Regions from separate parts of the Homo sapiens genome. Here region 2 is linked to region 1. A link means that fine-mapping ties the variant in region 1 to the plasma level of a protein whose gene starts in the linked region. Region 1 holds a variant in brackets. A gene starts in the other region. All regions are shown on their forward strands. Region 1 holds the start of MIR1587 (microRNA 1587). Region 2 holds the start of PVALB (parvalbumin).

The links. A credible set is the group of variants that fine-mapping cannot tell apart. PIP is the chance, under the fine-mapping model, that this variant and not a neighbour inherited with it causes the effect. The UK Biobank Pharma Proteomics Project read protein levels with antibody pairs (Olink). The fine-mapping took linkage between variants from a reference panel, not from the people measured, so its PIPs are less certain.
Region 2: it holds the start of PVALB, and the variant in region 1 is the best candidate, but not a certain one, in a credible set for the plasma level of the PVALB protein (UK Biobank, PIP 0.55).

What each region holds. Positions count from the first base shown.
Region 1 is chrX:39,834,626-39,843,394 of GRCh38, forward strand. It overlaps MIR1587 (microRNA 1587), which reads left to right and starts at 2,936; the gene lies at 2,936-2,988. RefSeq lists a silencer at 5,185-5,373. The variant C/A (reference allele first, on the strand shown) is at 4,067.
Region 2 is chr22:36,810,743-36,819,511 of GRCh38, forward strand. PVALB (parvalbumin) reads right to left here and starts at 6,293. Exons shown (of 4, transcript NM_001315532.2): 1 at 6,203-6,293; 2 at 4,361-4,493; 3 at 2,904-3,013. The coding sequence starts at 6,263.

The DNA of each region.
Region 1 (8,769 bases):
TGGGGACTTATTAGTACTGTCCATTATCATTAGAATAGGAGAGTTATTTTAGGCAAACACTAACTCACACTAAGTCCAGAGGCTGGTGAAATAGTCCTTCACCTTTCTCATCAAGTCCTTTAAAGTCTATACAAAGCAGATCTCTGTGAGTTAGCACAGGGTTTAACTCTGAGTAACAAAGACCAGAAATGAAAGTGGCTTAAATGAGTCAAAAGTGTATTTCTCACCCAAATACCCAAGCTAGGTGGTCTGGGGCTGGTGTGGCAGCTGTGGCTGTGCTCCATGAACCCTCAGGGACTATGGCAGGTAGAATTTTCCAGAACTGGCTACAACAGTATCTCCTGTCCCTCACGCTCTTCTGTATCATGAGCTTGATAGCCCACCAGTGGAGAAGGGGCGTCTGATTCCCCTCCTAGGTTGAATCTAAGCCAGCTTGTGACTGTTTCGGCCAATAGAATTTGGTAGAGTGATACTGCAAGATTTTTGGGTGGATCATAAAAGGTCATATGTTCTCCACCTTGTTCACTGGAATATTCTTGCTTGGGGCTCAGAGCCACCATGTAAGAGATCCAACTACCCTGAGGTTACTATGCTGTGATGACATCAAGCCACATGGAGAGGCCATGTATAGGTGCCCTGGTTGACAGTCCTAATCTTTGAGCCATCCTTATTCCAGGCTCCAGATGTGTAAGTGAAGCTGTGTTGGATCTTCCAGACCAGCCATTCAGTCAGCTGAGTACCACTGAGTGACGCCAGTCAACACCACTAGGAACAAAAGCATTGCCCAGCCAAGCCCTGCCCAGAGTCCTTTCCCACAGAATCTATGAGCACAATAAAATGGTTGTTTGGGATTTTTGAGACAGAGGCTCACTCTGTTCCCCCAGGCTGGATTGCAGTAGCATGATCTCGGCTCACTGCAACCTCCGCCTCCCATGTTGAAGTGATTCTTGTGCCTCAGCCTCCCGAGTAGCTGAGACTACAGGTGTGCGCCACCATGCCTGGCTAATTTTTGTATTTTTGGTACAGATGGGGTTTCACCATGTTAACCAAGCTGGTCTCAAACTGGCCTTAAGTGATCTGCCCACCTTAGCTTCCCAAAGTGCTGGGATTACAGGCGTGAGCTATCACGCCCAGCCCTAAAATGGTTGTTTTAAGCCACCAACTCTGCAGTAGTTTGTTACACACCGAAAGTAACTGGGACAGAAATTCTGGTTCCATCCAGCTCATTGTTCTGCCACAGCTAGGAGTGACCTTGTCCTCATTATCCAAAATGGTGTCTGGAGCTTCAGCCATTACATCTGCATTCCAGATGGTAGGATATTGGGAGGGATGAAGGAAAAGGGCAAAGTGTGTGACACAGCTCTCTCTTAAGGAAGTTCCTGGAGGATGCCTCAGGACATGAAATAAAATTGGCTAGTATTTAGTCATGTAGCCATACCTAGCAATAAGAGAAGCTGGGAAACATTGTCTTTATTCCAGATGAGTGTATGCCCAACTAAAAATCAGGGGTTCTATTACATAAGAAGATGAAGAAAATAAACACAACAGTCTGCCACAGCATCCCCAAATGCCCTTGCTCTCTCCCTCCTCTCCCAGAGCCCCCGTATTTATTTATATACACTGTCAGCCTAGCCCAGGGTCCTAACATGAATATCAAGAAGTGAGTATCTAAAAGACAAATGAGTGTTTCTCCAGCTAATACTGAAGATCCCTCTCAAAGCATAATTTCTGATGCTAACAAAGTCTTTCTCTTTTCTTTTCTTTTTTTTTTTTTTTTTTTTTTACAGAGTCTTGCTCTGTCCCCTAGGCTGGAATGCAGTGGCACAATCTTGGCTCACTGCAACCTCCACCTCCTGGGTTCAAGCAATTCTCCTGCCTCAGCCTCCCCAGTAGCTGGGATTACAGGCGAGTGCCACCATGACCAGCTAATTTTTGTATTTTTAGTAGAGACAGGGTTTCACCATGTTGGCCAGGTTGGTCTCCAACTGCTGACCTCAGGTGATCTCCCAAAGTGCTGGGATTACAGGCATGAGCCACCGTGCCCGACCTTGTCTCTTTTCTTTCTAAAGGCCCCTTCCCAGTAAGGATGAGGAAAGATGGTAGGGGTCTGGGGCCAGGGGGAATAGGGATCCTGGCCAGCCCCATATATTAATTAATGAAGCAACTGTTAGTGTGTCCAACACTGGCTCCTCTAATCCTTGCCCTAAAACATGGCACTACGATTACATTCAGTTAGCAGATGGGGGAAAAAAACAGACTCAGAAAGCTTAAGTGACTCACCCCAAGTCACACAGCTAGAAGTGGCAAGGACAGCAGGGCTGGTGTGGCAGCTGTCACAGCTCACCCCTGAGCACAAGGTCAGGTGCCAAGTTCCTGGTGGTGGCTCTTTAAACAGCAAGTCCCAGCATGTCCCCTGTCACCGGGTCTGCCTGTGGTCTGCAGCCTCCCTTGTGGAGACCCTGCTTGTCTGTCTTCCCTGCACCCACAGGAACAGGATCGTTTGTGAGCATGCCTGAGGGAAGCCAGGGTTGTGTTAAACTGTGGCTACAGCCGAGACCCGTGGACATTGTTCTCTTTCAGTTTGGAACTGGGCCTCACTCCAGAGCTCGGTGCCTGAGCCTGAGCCTCCACTCAGAGACAAGCTCATCAGCTGCAAGACAGTCAGGGAGGTGCAGGCAGCCCCCGCAGCTTGTGAATCAGTGAGTGAGCTTAGATATATAAAGAACCCCGGCAAATGATGAAAAACTTCTGCAGATGGCTGGTGGTGATGGTAGCACAATGTGAATGTACTGAATGCCACTCAACTGTACGTTTAAAAATGGTTAAAATGGTAAATGCTATGTTATGCATATTTTATCACAATAAAAAAACACCCCAAAACTTAGTGGCTTAAAAGAGCAATCATTTATCAGCCCATGATTCTGCAGATCTGCAATTTGGGCTGGGCTGGGTTGGGCAGTTCTTCTGCTGGACTCACCTGTGACCAGCTGGCAGGTCACCTGGGAACCGAATGGTCTAGGATGGCCTCATGCAGTGTGTCTGGTGGTTGGTGCTGGTTGTCAGCTGGGTGGCAGTGGTGACTGGGCCACATACCTCCACCTGCCTAACCCAGGCACATTCACATGTTGGCAGTTGTAAGGGTCCCAAGAACAGCGTGAGAGGGCAAATCTCAATGCACAAGCACTTTTCAAACCTCTGCTAATCATGGTTGATGGTGTCCCATTGGCCAAAGCAAGTCACCTGGCCAAACCCACAGTCAGTGTGGGAGGGAACTACACCAGGGACTGAATCCAAGGAGGTGTGAGCAAATGGAGTCACTACCACCAGTCACACAACTTGTCCATGAGTTATTGTTGCAACTATCAAGCCTGGGTGACTACACAGGTGCATTAATTTTCAAAACAGAAAAGAAAGCTGGTTGCCCAAATCAGCATCTACTTTAGCCATTGAAGACACGAGATGGCCCCAGGCAGGAGTGCAGTTTTCAAAAATGAAGGGAACATTCTAGCATGACGTCGTCTCTTGGAGATCCAGAACAGAACCCACATCCCCAGCTCTTGGGGCTTTCTGTGAAGTTTCGGAGAGCAAGCAGGGTGCCCCCAGCTCTTCCTGGTTGGTGGAAGCGCCAGCCTCTCCAAGTGCATCCACTTCTTAAAGGCAAATCGTGATTCCCAGGCCCTGCCCCATCAACACAGATATGCTAAAAGCAGGGTTTGAACTAGAGATGGGTGGTGAGAACCAGGCCAAAAAATGACTCCTTCCGCAGTGTACTGGATTTCCTTTCTGCCCTGTCCCCGGATAGAGCCCCAGAGGAGAACGGCTGTTTGCTTTCTTTCCAAAATGAGCTCAACTTTCCTTTGGGAAGAAGGAGGTGGAGTTGTCCTGCCCCCATTACTGAGCAAATCAAGAATGGAGGGCCAGCCTCTATACCCCGCCGGCTGACAAGGAGGGCAGCCATACCCACACAAGAGTCAGACAGTCTGGGTGACCCCATCAATCACCCCTGTGTGACCTTGAGCAAGTTACTTAGCCTCACATGGTCTGTTTCCTCATAGAAGTGCAACAA[C/A]GACAAGATTAACCCCTCTTGAAGGGCCATCATGAGGATCCTATGCCCTAGCTCTTGCATGAGACAGTCCAGAGCACATAGAAGATGCTTACTAGCCACAGCTTGTCTTTTACGGTGGCTCTCTCCCAAGCCACAGGAGAAGAAAGCTTCTATGAGCTAGGCCAGGGTAACAGACCAACAAGGTCATTTGCAAACCCACATCTGGGCAGCAAATCTCACAGCCCTCCTTTCATCCAAAGGGCTTGATCATGGCAGCGGTGCTTCCACCCCCCTGACGCAAGAGAGACTCCCTCTGCCTTCCCCCGAAGCCATCACTAAGTCTCCACCTAACATTGTGTAAGGATGTCCCAACCATCCCTCCAAACCCTACTTCCACTGGCTGTGACAGGTGGCCAGACAGGAAGGAGGTATTACCTTGGTGTGAGAGTGGAGGGTTACAAGCTACCTTCAGGGTGCTACCTTGCAGGTTTCAGAAAACAGGCCAAGCCGCAACCCCATACACCACCTCTCCAGCATGCGGAAGCCGTGCTGCTGAAAGCATTTTGATTTTCCTCTTCCCTTGGCTTATCCTCTCCCCCTCAAATGCCATCTGCGGGGGAAATAGAAACAAGAGAGCATTTTAAAGACTTCTTGTGGTCTAAAAGCAGCAGTCCTCCAGGATGAAGCATCCTTAGGAAACCAATGACTGATTCTTTCAACCCTATTCCATGAAGCAGAACCCCCAAATCGTCCCCCTCTGATTTTACATCCCCTTGAGTTTGCCAGATTTTACCACCCAGCATCCTCCAGTGTCCCAAGCAGACCCGCAGCACACACCTGATTAAGCAGGTGCCAGACCCCCCCACCCTCACCCCGGGGCAGGTTTTGCGTGTTGACTCTCTCGGAACACTGCCCCTACCTGGTTCAGCTGGTTTATTGCAAGTTAATTGGTCTCATCCCTTCCCACTCCCCAACTCCATCACCCTTGGTTATTTATTGCTATGTACCAGTTACATAATGTTTTCTCTTTCGTTCATGAGGTAACAAAAATGTCTCTGCCTTTTTATTTTTTCTTAGACAGGGCTGGAGGGAGGAAAACAAGGGGTGACCCAGAAGTCTGCATGTCACCCTGGCCCTGAGGAACACTTAGAGATTCCCTCGCTTGGGTTCTGCCCCAGAGGATGGAAGAGATGAACTGCCACCTTTACCAGTCAAGCTGAGAAGGCTGCAGGCCCTCTGAGGTTCTGGGTGGGCTCCCGGCCTCCCCCTGGCTAGGGAAATATGGCCATTGGTAAACTGGGGAGAGAGGTACATGGACACAGGGCTGGGGTGAGGGGGCAGTAAAGGACCCTGATAAATCTGTCCTGGCTTTAAAGCTCCAAATAGGAGCTTGCCTTCATGGGCTCCTTCCTCCAGGTTCAGAAACCTGGACAAATAGCTCCCCACTTCCCAGGGTCAATGACCAAATCTGGATGGAGGGGGAGGGGAGAGCAGGCTGGGGGTGTGGGGGGTGGCGGTGCTGCTACCGCTGCTGCTGCAGCCCCCTGTGTATAAAACTCCCTTTGTATGCAGGTCGCCGGCTGCTCCCCATGCCAGGTGCAGCTGCCAGGATTCTCAATGCGGTTTGAACACAATTTGCCAGTGTTGGTTCAGCTCCGCTGGCTTCCAGTTGGGGGGCCATATGCTGTCTTTAATCTGCCTGTGCAATTCTCACCGATGTCAATAGGCGCGGGCGGGTGGGTGGTTCAAATGGCCCGAGAGCTGGGACTGGGGTGGTGCTCTCCCTGCTGCCAGGCGGCCTAGCTCTCCACCCCACCAAGGACCACCAGCGGGTCCTTGCAGGAGGCCATGGCAGCAGGCGGCAGGGACAGGCAGGGCCCAGTCACTGGCAGCTGCCCCTGTGTTTGGCTATGGCGCGTGGGAGCCTCTCTGTTCGGCCATCCCCAGAGCCATCATTGAGCCTTCCCCTCGACAGAGATCCCTGCCAAGGAAGTCGGCCAGGGAGGTGCCAGCGCTCAGTCCAGACTTCACATTTCCCTCATTCTTTCTTTAATTGGATTTTTGGTCCTGCTGGGCAAAATAAGCTTTCCACTGGCAAAACACTCTTGCCTCTTCGGAACGCGCGGTGGTGCCCGGCGGCTCTAGGCAGATCGTCGCCTGCCTCCCCCACCAACGCATTCATTCCCTCTCCCCAGGGACACAAGAGAGCTTGGCGTGCACACACATGCACTCACACACACACACATCCCCTCTGCCAGGTCCAGGCAAAGTCAGCCTCCCTCCAAGAACTTGATGTAGAGATCTTTGCAAACAGTTACTCTTGCTTACCAGGTCACGATCCCACATGGAATGGCCCGGAGTCGGGTGCTGTGGTTGGAGCTGGGGCTGTTGGGCGGGCATCAGGCCCTGGCCCAGCTGTTGGCTGCCCTCTCCGTGGCTGGGCTGCCCCCTCCCCTTGTAGTTAGTCCCTCCTTCCCTGAAGCCCTGAAAGTCCCAATTCTGTTACTCAGACACAGATTAAGGTGCCAAGAAGCAATCTTCTGTCTTTCCTTGACAATCGGACAGGCAAGCTAGGCCTTCGTGTGTGTTTGGGGTGGAAGTGTGTGGTGGTGGTGGGTTGGGGAAAGGCTGACGGAGGAGCAGGCAAGCAAGCTGGAGTCGGACTGAGAATGTCATTCAGAGAAGTGGCATTTTACTAGCAGCACTCAACATGAGATATTTAGATACTCTTACATCTTGGACTGAGCATTAGGGAAGAAAGGGAGAGGGGGAGGAGAGAGAGGGAGAGTGGAAGAAGGAGGACCAGGAAGGGAGGAGGGGAGAAGAAAAAGAAAGGAAGGAGAAGTGGGGGAGAACAGAGTGGGGAGGATGAAGAGGAAAAGGGGAGGAAGGAGAGGAAGAAGAGGGGAGGAAGGGCAAGAAAGAGCCACCCCCAACTCTCACCCGCCTTTACAAGAGGTGTGTTTTAAATCCTCACAGGCAGCTGTGAGGACCAGCAGAGCTAGCCCCTAGCCTCTCCCAGGTTTAGCCAGGCACGTTAAGGAAACCCTGCATCCCCAGACACTCTCAGAGCTTTCAGTGGCCAAGGGAACCCAGCAGTCCTCTCTCCATCTCTGGGATCCCGCATTCCACACCCCGCCCCCCACCCGCCACTGGCTGGGCCTTCCCATCCAGTGCCTGAGAGTATTACAGACCTCATCCCCGGGTAGTTAAGGTGCCTATTAAAATACACCAAGCTCAGCCCCAACAGCAGGCCAGAAAGCTGCTGATGGTCAAATACATCACAATATTTCAAAGTCCCTGTTAACAAGCACCCATTAAAATTTGACAACCAAGTAGTATCGCAGAAAGCGCTCATTCTGAAAAAAACGTGAGAGCTTTCTGCTGCTTCAGCAAGAGAAGGCTGGTTTACCTGTTCCTTGCATTTTAAGCCCGGGAGCACGAGGCCTTCCTGTCGGGGTGCTGCCTGGTTAAAGGAACACTGGGTGTTTATTCGCCAGGCCACATCTGAACCCGGCTTGTTAATGAGTCTGCTGTTGTAGGCTTGCTGTCGGTCAGCCTGCCTTTTTTTAATCAAAAGATAAAACAAGTCGGTTATCCAGGATTAATGACTCTTAGAGCATCCATATGAGGCTTGTATTTATCTTTTAAAAGAAAACAGAAGGAAGAAAAATGACCAGATTTTGTTTCAGTAAGCAGTTTAAATCTGCTCTGGTAAGTTGAATTCATTCATTCATTAATTCAGTCATGTGTCTGGGAGAAGCCAGCAGGAGCCCCTTCCATCATAAGAACTTCTGACTGTGAAATAAACCCCGAGTAACCAGATTAACTATGAAGTATGTCTCCGTCAGGTTTTAGGCATTAGTTCAAGTGTAATTTCTGTGCATTTCGGCTTATTGCAGCGAGTTGCCCATTCTGGTATTCCAGGCAGCTCTTCAGGAGGAGAAAGGGTCTCTGTTTCCCCTCTCCAGCTTCAAAACAGCTCGTGTATGCAATGACAATATTGCCCAGTGTTGTTTTAACTGGGAATATCAATATTTTAAATAAATTCCCATATGACTCATATAGCTTTGCATAGCACAGAGTGTATGAATGTCTCTTCACCTCTGAACATGCAGAGGTATATATGCACATACCGGCACGTGTGTGCGCACACACACCCATATCACATATACATATATGTGACCATGCAGAGCATATGGCTACCGAAATACTCATTTTAAACAGTTTGAGGGCTTCGTTTACAACATATATTATAAAATTGGTATCTTTTATTTAGCATCCCTAGATACAGTTTGGCCATAAAACACACACACACACACACACACACACACACACACAATATTGGCCTTGCTCTCACTCGAACTGGGCCCTGCTGTTTTCTAAGTTGGCTGTCTTCATACGGGCCTCCTTCTTTTTATTCTCCATCCTTTTCTGAAAGTCTATATGCTCTGGTGTAGGAGAGCTAGTACTCTTGCATGAGGACACTTGAAATCACAGCCAAAAATGTCAAGGCGCTCCTTCTCACATCAGCAACAATGGCACACACTCAGGTTACAATGCGGCCCATTTTGGAAAGTAAATGATGTTTCCGGTGCTGCAGCACATCATTCTCTGGCTTCAAAGAAAGGCAAATACTCATTCTGGAGTAGGCTGGGGATCAAAAACAAATTCAGAAAACCCTGGTGAGGATCTGTCTACTGTAGTTTCACCTCTTTGGGTCT
Region 2 (8,769 bases), not on the chromosome of region 1:
TCTTTCCTCCCATTCTTGGCAAAACAATCTTCTTGCCCCTTTCTGAACATACCCAAAAGTTTCCAGCCTTGGCTGATGCCAATACCTTGCCTGGACCCCACTCCCTCTGTCCCCTACAGCCTGTGGCTTAGCCTCCAAGTCCGTACAAAATGCCTGATGCCTGCGCCTCTGCCTCTGGCTGGCACTATCGCTTGTTTGTGTATATGTGTAGAGCTGCAAGCAATTTGCAGACAATAAAAATGACATTGCATGGCCGGGTGCAGTGGCTCATGCCTGTAACCCCAGCACTTTGGGAGGCTGAGGTGGGCGGATGACTTGAGGTCAGGAGTTCGAGACCAGCCTGGCCAACATGGTGAAACCTCGTCTCTACTAAAAATACAAAAATTAGCTGGGGATGGTGGTGCGTGCCTGTAATCCCAGCTACTCAGGAGGCTGGGGGAGGGGGGAATTGCTTAAACCCAGGAGGCAGAGGTTGCAGAGAGCTGAGATTACACCACTGCACTCCAGCCTGGGTGACAGAGAGAGACTGTCTCTAAATAAATAAATAAATAAATAAATAAATAAATAAGGCATTGCAGTGGCCATTTATTGAGCATTTGTTATGTGCTGGGCACTACAGGCCACATTTCCATGTTATAATGCCTAGTTTACAGATGAGGAAGCTGGGGCTCAGGGCTAAGGAGTAGCTGCTCAGGGGCACCCAGTCAGGAAATGGGCCTGAATTATTTTTACCTCTTCCATTGCCGGGCACAGAGTTGCTACTCAGTCAACATCTGCTGGATCTGTTAGAAGAGTTTAGTTGATGCCTTAAGATCTGAGTGTGGCAGGGAGGGAGGGAGGGAGGCAGGGAACTGGGCCAGGTTTGGCTGGTTTCTCTTCATCAGGTAGGTTTTCTGTGAGCAGTCAGCCATGAAGACCCAGCCCAGGGCTTCTGAGGTATGGCATATTGGCTGCAAATAAAAATGGAAGGCAGGTCTGGAGGCCAGGGTCAGGGTTCAGATGGGAGCCAGGCCTTGGGGTGGAGCTGTCTGATAAGCAGATTGGTGGGGATGGGGGTGTGAGGGAGGATCTGCCAAGCACCAGAAGCCCCAGGAGCGGCCAAGCCAATGATGCCTTTCCAATACCCTCTGCTCCACTCCTTTAAAACCACCTCCCTCCTTCCCAGCCACAAGAAGGGCAGCTGGCATCAGATGGCCAGGGGACCCCCTGCATTTGACCTGGATAGGGATTCTCCATTCTCGTTACTGGCAGGAAACAAACAAACAGAAAAGAAATCAACAACAACAACAACAAAAAAAACCCTCTAACTCATAGGCATACACCTACTTTCATAATCCTTGTACCTTTCCCAAAGCAATTTTGGGTTCACAGAATCTTAATTTTCACAACAAGCCCAAATAGGTCTTAGGAGAAGCTGATGCACCCCATTTGCCGGGCAAGGGAACGTAGGTGTGCAGAGGTGACGTGTTCAAGGTCACAGCTGGCAAGGGGCAGAGAAGGAGCAGAGCATGGGGGTCTGGGCTTTACACTCAGGCAGCGGATGTTTATGAAGCACCTGCTCTGTGTGGGGTATTGGCTAGATACTGGGGCTAGAAGGATGAATGCAACCCAATCCCTAGTTTTAAGTTTTACATCCACTTATATGTTGGATGTAAGTGGGTAGAACGTGAAGATTCTAGACAGAAGGTACCCTTGCGAAGGGACCTAGTTTTAAAAAAATTAGCTAACAAATACATATATAACATTTACTCTGTGCCAGACACTGTTCTAGGCACTTTACATATTAACACATCTAACCCTTGTAATCACCCTGTAAGAATTATCATTCTATTCAGTTCAGAGATGAGAAAACAGAGGCTCAGAGTAGTTATCAAATTACGCAAGGTCACACAGCTCGAAAGTGGTAGGGCTGGGATTTGAACCCAGATAGCCTGGGGCCCAGAGGCCAAACACCTACACACAGTTTTCTCTGAGACCAGCAGAAAAGCCTATTATGGGAACAAATGGCAGCTTAGTATGTTGCAAACACTCATTCAGGCCTGGTTCTAAATCCCCACTCCACCGCTATGTCCTAGCTCTTTCAACTAGGCTAAGCACCTTCAAAGTCCATTTGCCCACCTGCAAAATGGAGATAATTCCGGAGAAAATCATAAGCTAAGAGAGATAGCAATGTGGGTGTGCTCCATGAATGCCACACAGAGCCAAATGGAGAAAGGAGTGGACGGTGGGCCACTGGTCTCTCACCTGTGCTGACATTGAAGCCTGCAAAGCAAGGCAGGGCCAGGTATTCCCTGTCTGAATTCCCCACTGATTTCTGGTTTACTGTTTTTCCTGGCTCTGCTGCAAGGCTAGAATAGTATATTTGAGTAAAACCCAAACAGGTTTTGAGACTTGGGGTTACAGGACACCAGGACAAGATGCTGAGGAGGACAGGAGATAGGAATTTCCATCCCTGGAATCTGAGGATGTGAGAGGCAGAGGATCCTTGGGGATTAGTCGGCCTCATTTCGTTGGATTAGAGATGGGAGACAGAGGCCCAGCGATCGAGAGACACTGCCCAAGGTCACACAGCCAGTTTGGGCAGAGGTTGGGCCAGTATCCATGCAAAAATGCAGGCAGAGTTCAGGAAAAAAAAATCCCAAATCCTCCTGGATCCCCTACCCAGCAGGAAAAACAGAATCTATTCCTTTTAGGTTTTCAAATTAGGAAAATACACCAGTTTTCCTTTGTCTGGAGTATGTGGCAGAGCTCTCAGACCTAATGGACTGCTTTTTGTCTTCTAATCTGGGGGAGTGAGGGACCCCCATATCATCCCTTCCTTGTGACAGACATAGCTTCAAACTTTTCGCATCCAACACCCCAAGATCCACAATATGCCCAGACCCCAGGTCACGGCTACCCACCGTCAACCCCAATTTTGCCGTCCCCATCTTTGTCTCCAGCAGCCATCAGCATCTTGGTTTCTTTAGCAGACAGGTCTCTGGCATCTGGGGAGAAGCCTTTTAGGATGAATCTGGAGGAGAAAAGGGAGAAAGCCGGTGAGGGAGTCAGGCCGAGGTCGCCTTGCAGGACGCTGGATGGAGGGTGGTCTGGTTTCTGTATGGGGAAAGGGATGGCTGGGACAGGCAGCGAGCAGCAGTCACGCACACGGATGCTCTGGGCCAGGTAGCCTGCTCGGTGGCTGTGCTTTCGTGGGTGAGTATTTAGGAAAGGACAGGCTGTCCTCAGTGAAGGGTTGTCCTCACTTCAGGGAGGGCACCTACATTCGTTAATTTATCCAACAAGTATTCACTAAGTGTCATTTCTGTGTCTGGCGTATGCTGGAAAGTGGGGTCACAGTGGTGATCTTCGGAAGGCACTGGAAAAAATAAGGAGGTCACGGGCTCCGAGAGAGACCACACAGTGTGATGGGCCGTGGAGGAGGGCACTCAGAAGCTGTATCTGCCCACCTGCGGTGAGGGGAGGAGAGGGGAGGCTTCCTGGTGAAGGTGATACCTGGAGGACAGGGGGAAGTCAGCCTCTGTGAGTGTGTGTGTGTGTGTGTGTGTGTGTGTGTGTGTGTGCATAAGTGTGCATGCATGTTGGATGTAAGTGGGTAGAACGTGAAGATTCTAGACAGAAGGTACCCTTGTGAGATGGTTTAGGGGAGAGACAGGATGGGTGGGGAAGTCCCTACTTGAAAGGCCTCTCCCTACACCCACCCCCCGCTTCTCTTTTTGACAAAACTCAAGGCTTTCTTGGCCAGAAAGTGACATAAGGCAACCTGAGTCAGTAGACATGGCCGGGTGGCTGAGGGAATTATGGTGGGAGATGCTTTTGCAGATGGAGGCATGCATTTTCCTAGCCACAGCCTTCTCCTTCTCTGCTTTTCTCCAAGGACCCCTGGACTCTCAGAGGTGGTTCTGCATCCCTGGCTTGCCTAGAAATTGCACCAGCCACACTAGTACCAGAGGGCTGGGGGCTGCAGGAAGGTGGAAAGTGTCTTTTAGACAAATGAAAATCAATGAAATACTCAAGTGAATGCTTTCTGCCCTGCCTATGGTGTTAGGCAGCAAGAAAACTGCCTCTTCATTTGCATTAAATTATTAAGTAGCAACATTCCATTAGCAATATTAAGTGGCTATCATTTAACCTAGTTAGTTGCACTTTCAGCTGAGGGTTTTACTCTTCCGAAGCAATAGCACCAGGAAGCCTTCTCCCCTGGTGCCCTGGGTCGGAGCCCTGCCTTCACGCACGGTTACTTTCTGTGAAGCAGGCAGAGTGAAAGGCAGGTCTGATGGACACTTGGAAGCTAGAGTCCCAGCCCCCACTCCCTCTCGTGCAGCCGTGGGCTGGGCAGCCCCTGCAGGCCTCCGCTTACCCCAGCTCATCCTCCTCGATGAAGCCACTTTTGTCCTTGTCCAGCATGTGAAACACCTTCTTCACATCATCCGCACTCTTTTTCTTCAGGCCGACCATTTGGAAGAACTTTTTGTGGTCGAAGGAGTCGGTAGCTGTGGGGGGAAGAGCAGGGTCAAACAAGGACCAGAAAGGCTGGTAGGGAAGCCTGGGAGAATGGGGGGCATCAAGGCATTTGTTGATGGATTCCCACATGCCAGTCATGGGGAATGAGAGGTACCCACCTCCATTGGAGGGCTGAGGGAGCCCGGGCAAGGGAGGATAACCTGTCCAAGGTCACAAGGCTGGGAGTGGAAGAGGTGTGCTCAAACCCAGACCTCCCTGGCTCTCAAGCCCGCCCCCACGCCCCACCTCCACTGCACCCATTGCTGATGATGGGAGCAGCACCTAAGAACCAAAGGCTTTTGTTCTTCTGAGAACCTTGTGCCCAGGAAGACTTTTGAGTGCCAGCTGGTTGGGAGTGGGCTGGGGAATTGAAGGGGGCATGAACATGGTCCTGGGGTTAGGGGGAGGAGGGTTGACCTTCTTTCTTGGCCACAGACTTTGTTGCCAGAAAATTGACATAGAAAGGACAGGTTTCCCTCAAGGTCATACAGTGGGAGGAGGAGGGGCAAACCCGGAAGTCCTGGCTCTGCGCAGAAATCCACTTCGGAGGCAGTGGGAAGGGGGTGTTAGGAGGCTCCCGAGAAACACCCAGTTAAGTTTCTTCCCACATGGGCTTGAGGTGAAGGGAGAGGGTTATCCCAGGACCCTGGGAGGGTGGCTTCCCAGAGAGGTTCTTGTGCCCAGGGGAGGGGGTGCAAAGCAGAAAGGAAATGGGGGTCCTTTTCTACCTGCAATTTTCTGTATCTTGGGGTCCTGTTTTAGAACACCTGGGGAAGGGTACAATGTTAGATCATGTATTTTGTGTGTGTGTGTGTGTGTGTGTGTGTGTAGGGAATGGCTGTTGAAGTCATGTTCTCTTCCCCTCAGCACAGGGCTAGAGACAAGGAAAGTTGCCCTGTCCACCTCCGACACTAGGCTGGGCAACCCAGTTCTAATACCCCTTCTGCCCAGCTAGGTGACCTTGGGCAAATGTCTTGTCCTCTCCAAGACAGTTCCCTGATTTCCCCATCTGGAGGACAGGGGAGGAGGAAGGCGGGCAGCTTAGCGCTGAAGTCCCGGGCAGCTGGGAGAGGTGAGACTGCCAGTTCCCCTCCCCTGCCCGCCTAAGGAGGCTGGAGGTTTGAGGCACTGAGGATGCCCCGTGCGGGCTTAGGCAGAGCTGTGCGCCGGCTCCAGAAGGTCACCTCGCCCGCAGGTCCGTTGCTGAATCTCAGTAAAGGAACTAGGACAGTCAGGGGGCCAACAAAGGCTACCGCCTGGCGGGAAAAGTCCTGTCCAGAATGAGGGTCCAGGAAAGGGGTCTCTTGGAGAGGAGGATGCCCCCTGCAGTCCCCTCTAAGTGCCTTAAAGAGGACGTCCAGAGAGCTCGTACAAGGACCCTGGAGGTCTCTCCTCCGACCCTGGTCTTCGCCCTTGGTCCCGGACCCTGAGTCCTCCCAGCCACCGGGCCTTCAGCACCCTCAAGTTTCTGTAACTTAGGCGGGGCGCCCTCTTCCCCGCCCGCTCCCCGCGCCAAGCCTCGCCCGGACAGAGTTTGGGAACTGCCAAGGACGCCCCCGCCCCGACCTCGCCGGCGCCCAGCGGGAAGTGTGGGCAGAAGCGCGCTGGGGAGGATCCGCCGGCTGCGGGGCCGGCGGAGTGCAGGGGCGCGGGCGGTGGACGAGGGGAGAGGGATGGGGAGGGGAGCGCGCTTGCTCACCGCTAAAGGCTCCCACCGCCTTCTTGATGTCCTCAGCGTTCAGCAAGTCTGTCATCGACATCCTGCAACTGTTTGAGCGGGCAGAGCAAGTGCGAAAAGATTAAAAAGTGCTTTTCTCATCATTTCTGCTCATATGACCAGCGCTGCAGTGCTGCGCGCCGGGCGCACGCCCGCCGGGCCTGGCATGGCGCCAGGGGCCCGGACTCTGAGCGCAGCGGGAGCGGCTCAGTCCAGCCGCGCCGCTGAGCAGCGCCGGCCGCCGGCAAGAAGGCGCGCGGACCTGCTACCACTCCTGCACCGCCAGGCCAGGGGTCCGCGGGATCCCAGGGGCTGCGGCCAGGGCACGAGGGAAGGGGCCACCTCTGGGATTTAGGGGGCACTGGCGTCACCAGCTGGGTCTGGAAAGTCCACCTGCCGTCAAGGACACGCAGGAGGTGCGCCGTCTCAGATCTGGGAACCTTGGCGGATGTCCTGCCGCGTGGGGGAAGATCCTGAACCTTCAGCGGCCAGCCTGCACCTCAGGACCTCCTAGGCCCTGCTCCCTTTCTCTCTCCACTCCTACCTCAGCCTCTGCTCTGGTCTGTCCTGGATGCAAATTTATGCTGCAAAATCTGAGCGCTGAGGTCCTGAAACCTGACCCACCCGACGCAGGGAGGAGGTGGCAGGGACAGGGACAGGGACAGGCAGGAGCTGCTGGGGCCCACTTCGGGTGCCCCATCCCACATCTGGCCAGGGATGCATATTCTAAAACCTGATTTGATGTTTTACTTTTATTTTTTATTTTTTTGCTGGCTTGATTTTTCGAAGAACACTTCTCAGATCTCTACTAACTACTTGCTTTCCTGGTCTCCTGGGTCCTGGCATCATGGGTCCAGACTCCCCCTACTCCTATAAACCTTTTTTGGGCAGAGTAGGGTGGGAGAGTCCGCTTGGAATTGCTATGCTCCCTCCCAGAAAGCCCCATATGTGTTTGGAAGAAGGGTAGCACCTTCAGACCACACTTTCTAGACAACCTAAGCAGGTGTAGGGGTCTGAACTTCACCTCTGGAAAAATGTCACGGTGCCTATCTGTATGCAGCCAGAGACCCGTTGTGTTCTTCCCCATGGTTCCCAAGGTTTCAAGCTGCAACCAGCTGCTTCTAGAGTGTGTGAGCGCTGGACAGGGAGTCAGGAGGCCTGGGTTCTAGATCCTGGGCTGCACTAAGTCCCAGTGTGACCTTGGGTTGTGACCTTCTCTGGGCTTCTGTCTCCTTCTGATGTGTTGATGACGTCAGTGGTCCCATGTAGTGGGACCTGGGGACTGCAACTTAAGGTATTGGCAGGTAGGCAGGGCCTTGGGCTGTGGTGGCCCTGGGTGGTGGGGACCAGGGAGAGCAGCTGTCCAGCTGCCCAGTAACTCAAGTTCCCTGACATCGCTGTCAACATTGTCTCCTGCAGCTCAGCCCTGGATGGCTGCCCTTCCTGGAAACCTTAGGATACCTCTGCTGGCTCCAGCTGCCCCCTCCCTGTGAGTCAGCTCCTTCAAGCCACAGCCCGCCAGATGGCTTCCAAGGCACCAAGGATGCAGCTCCTGACCTGATGCCTCTCAGCTCCAGGACTTCCCAGGACCCCTCAGCTGCCCTGGACCCTGCTGCTACTGCCGTCACCTCTGCACCTTGTCCCCAGCTGGGCTGCTGACTCAGATATGCCAGGCTCCTATGCTATCATTTCAACTCCCAGGCTCAGCTCACTCCAGGAGCCTAGTTGGAGAATGGATTTCCCCAGCTGAAGGACGCTTCAGCTATACCAGTGGAGAAACGGAGGCACAGAGTCCGTGAATGGTCTAAGGACACATGGTAAAGCAATAGCAGAGCAGGGTACACCCCTGGACTCACTCGTGTGGAGTTCAGTGACTCTCTGGGTGATCCTCCCTGGTGCCTGGGACCCAGCTCTATCAGGTCCCATACATCTCAGCCACACACTGGCTCCTGGTGAGCCCCTAAGCAGCTACCCTGTGGCAAAGGCTGCAGCCTCAACAGGGGCCCACTCTTCTTCCATCTCCTTCCTCCATCTCTCCCTGCTGCTGAGTTCTCCTATCAACTTGACACCCCCTCCGGGACTGAGCCCTCCCAGCCAGAGCATCAATGTCATTAGGTCAGCCCATCAGCCCTGGGTAGTCCTCCTCTGCCCTCTGGGTCCTCTCTGATGGCATCACCAGAGTCCACAGATGTCTGACTCCAGCCCTCTCGTTCTAAGGCTGGGGAATCTGAGGCCCAGCCACGGGGGGCGGTGGGTGGGGGGAGTTTGCCCCAGGCCACACCAGGAGTCTGGGTGGAGAAGCAGGAATGCATGCTCTCAGCCCTACATTCCACAGCTGCCCTGCCTCCAGCACCCCCACCGCACCCCCCTCCCCGGGTCACTACGGACAGGGGAGATGTAGCTCTCCCTTCCAGCTGGCTCATCCTGCTGCATCCCTCTATCCTCCAACCTCGGTAGCTGCCACTCACCTCGGGTGGGGGTGGAGGGCTGGAGCCTGCACTGAAAGGCTGGGCTGGTGGGAAGTCCTGTCGGGAAGTGAGCCTGGAGGT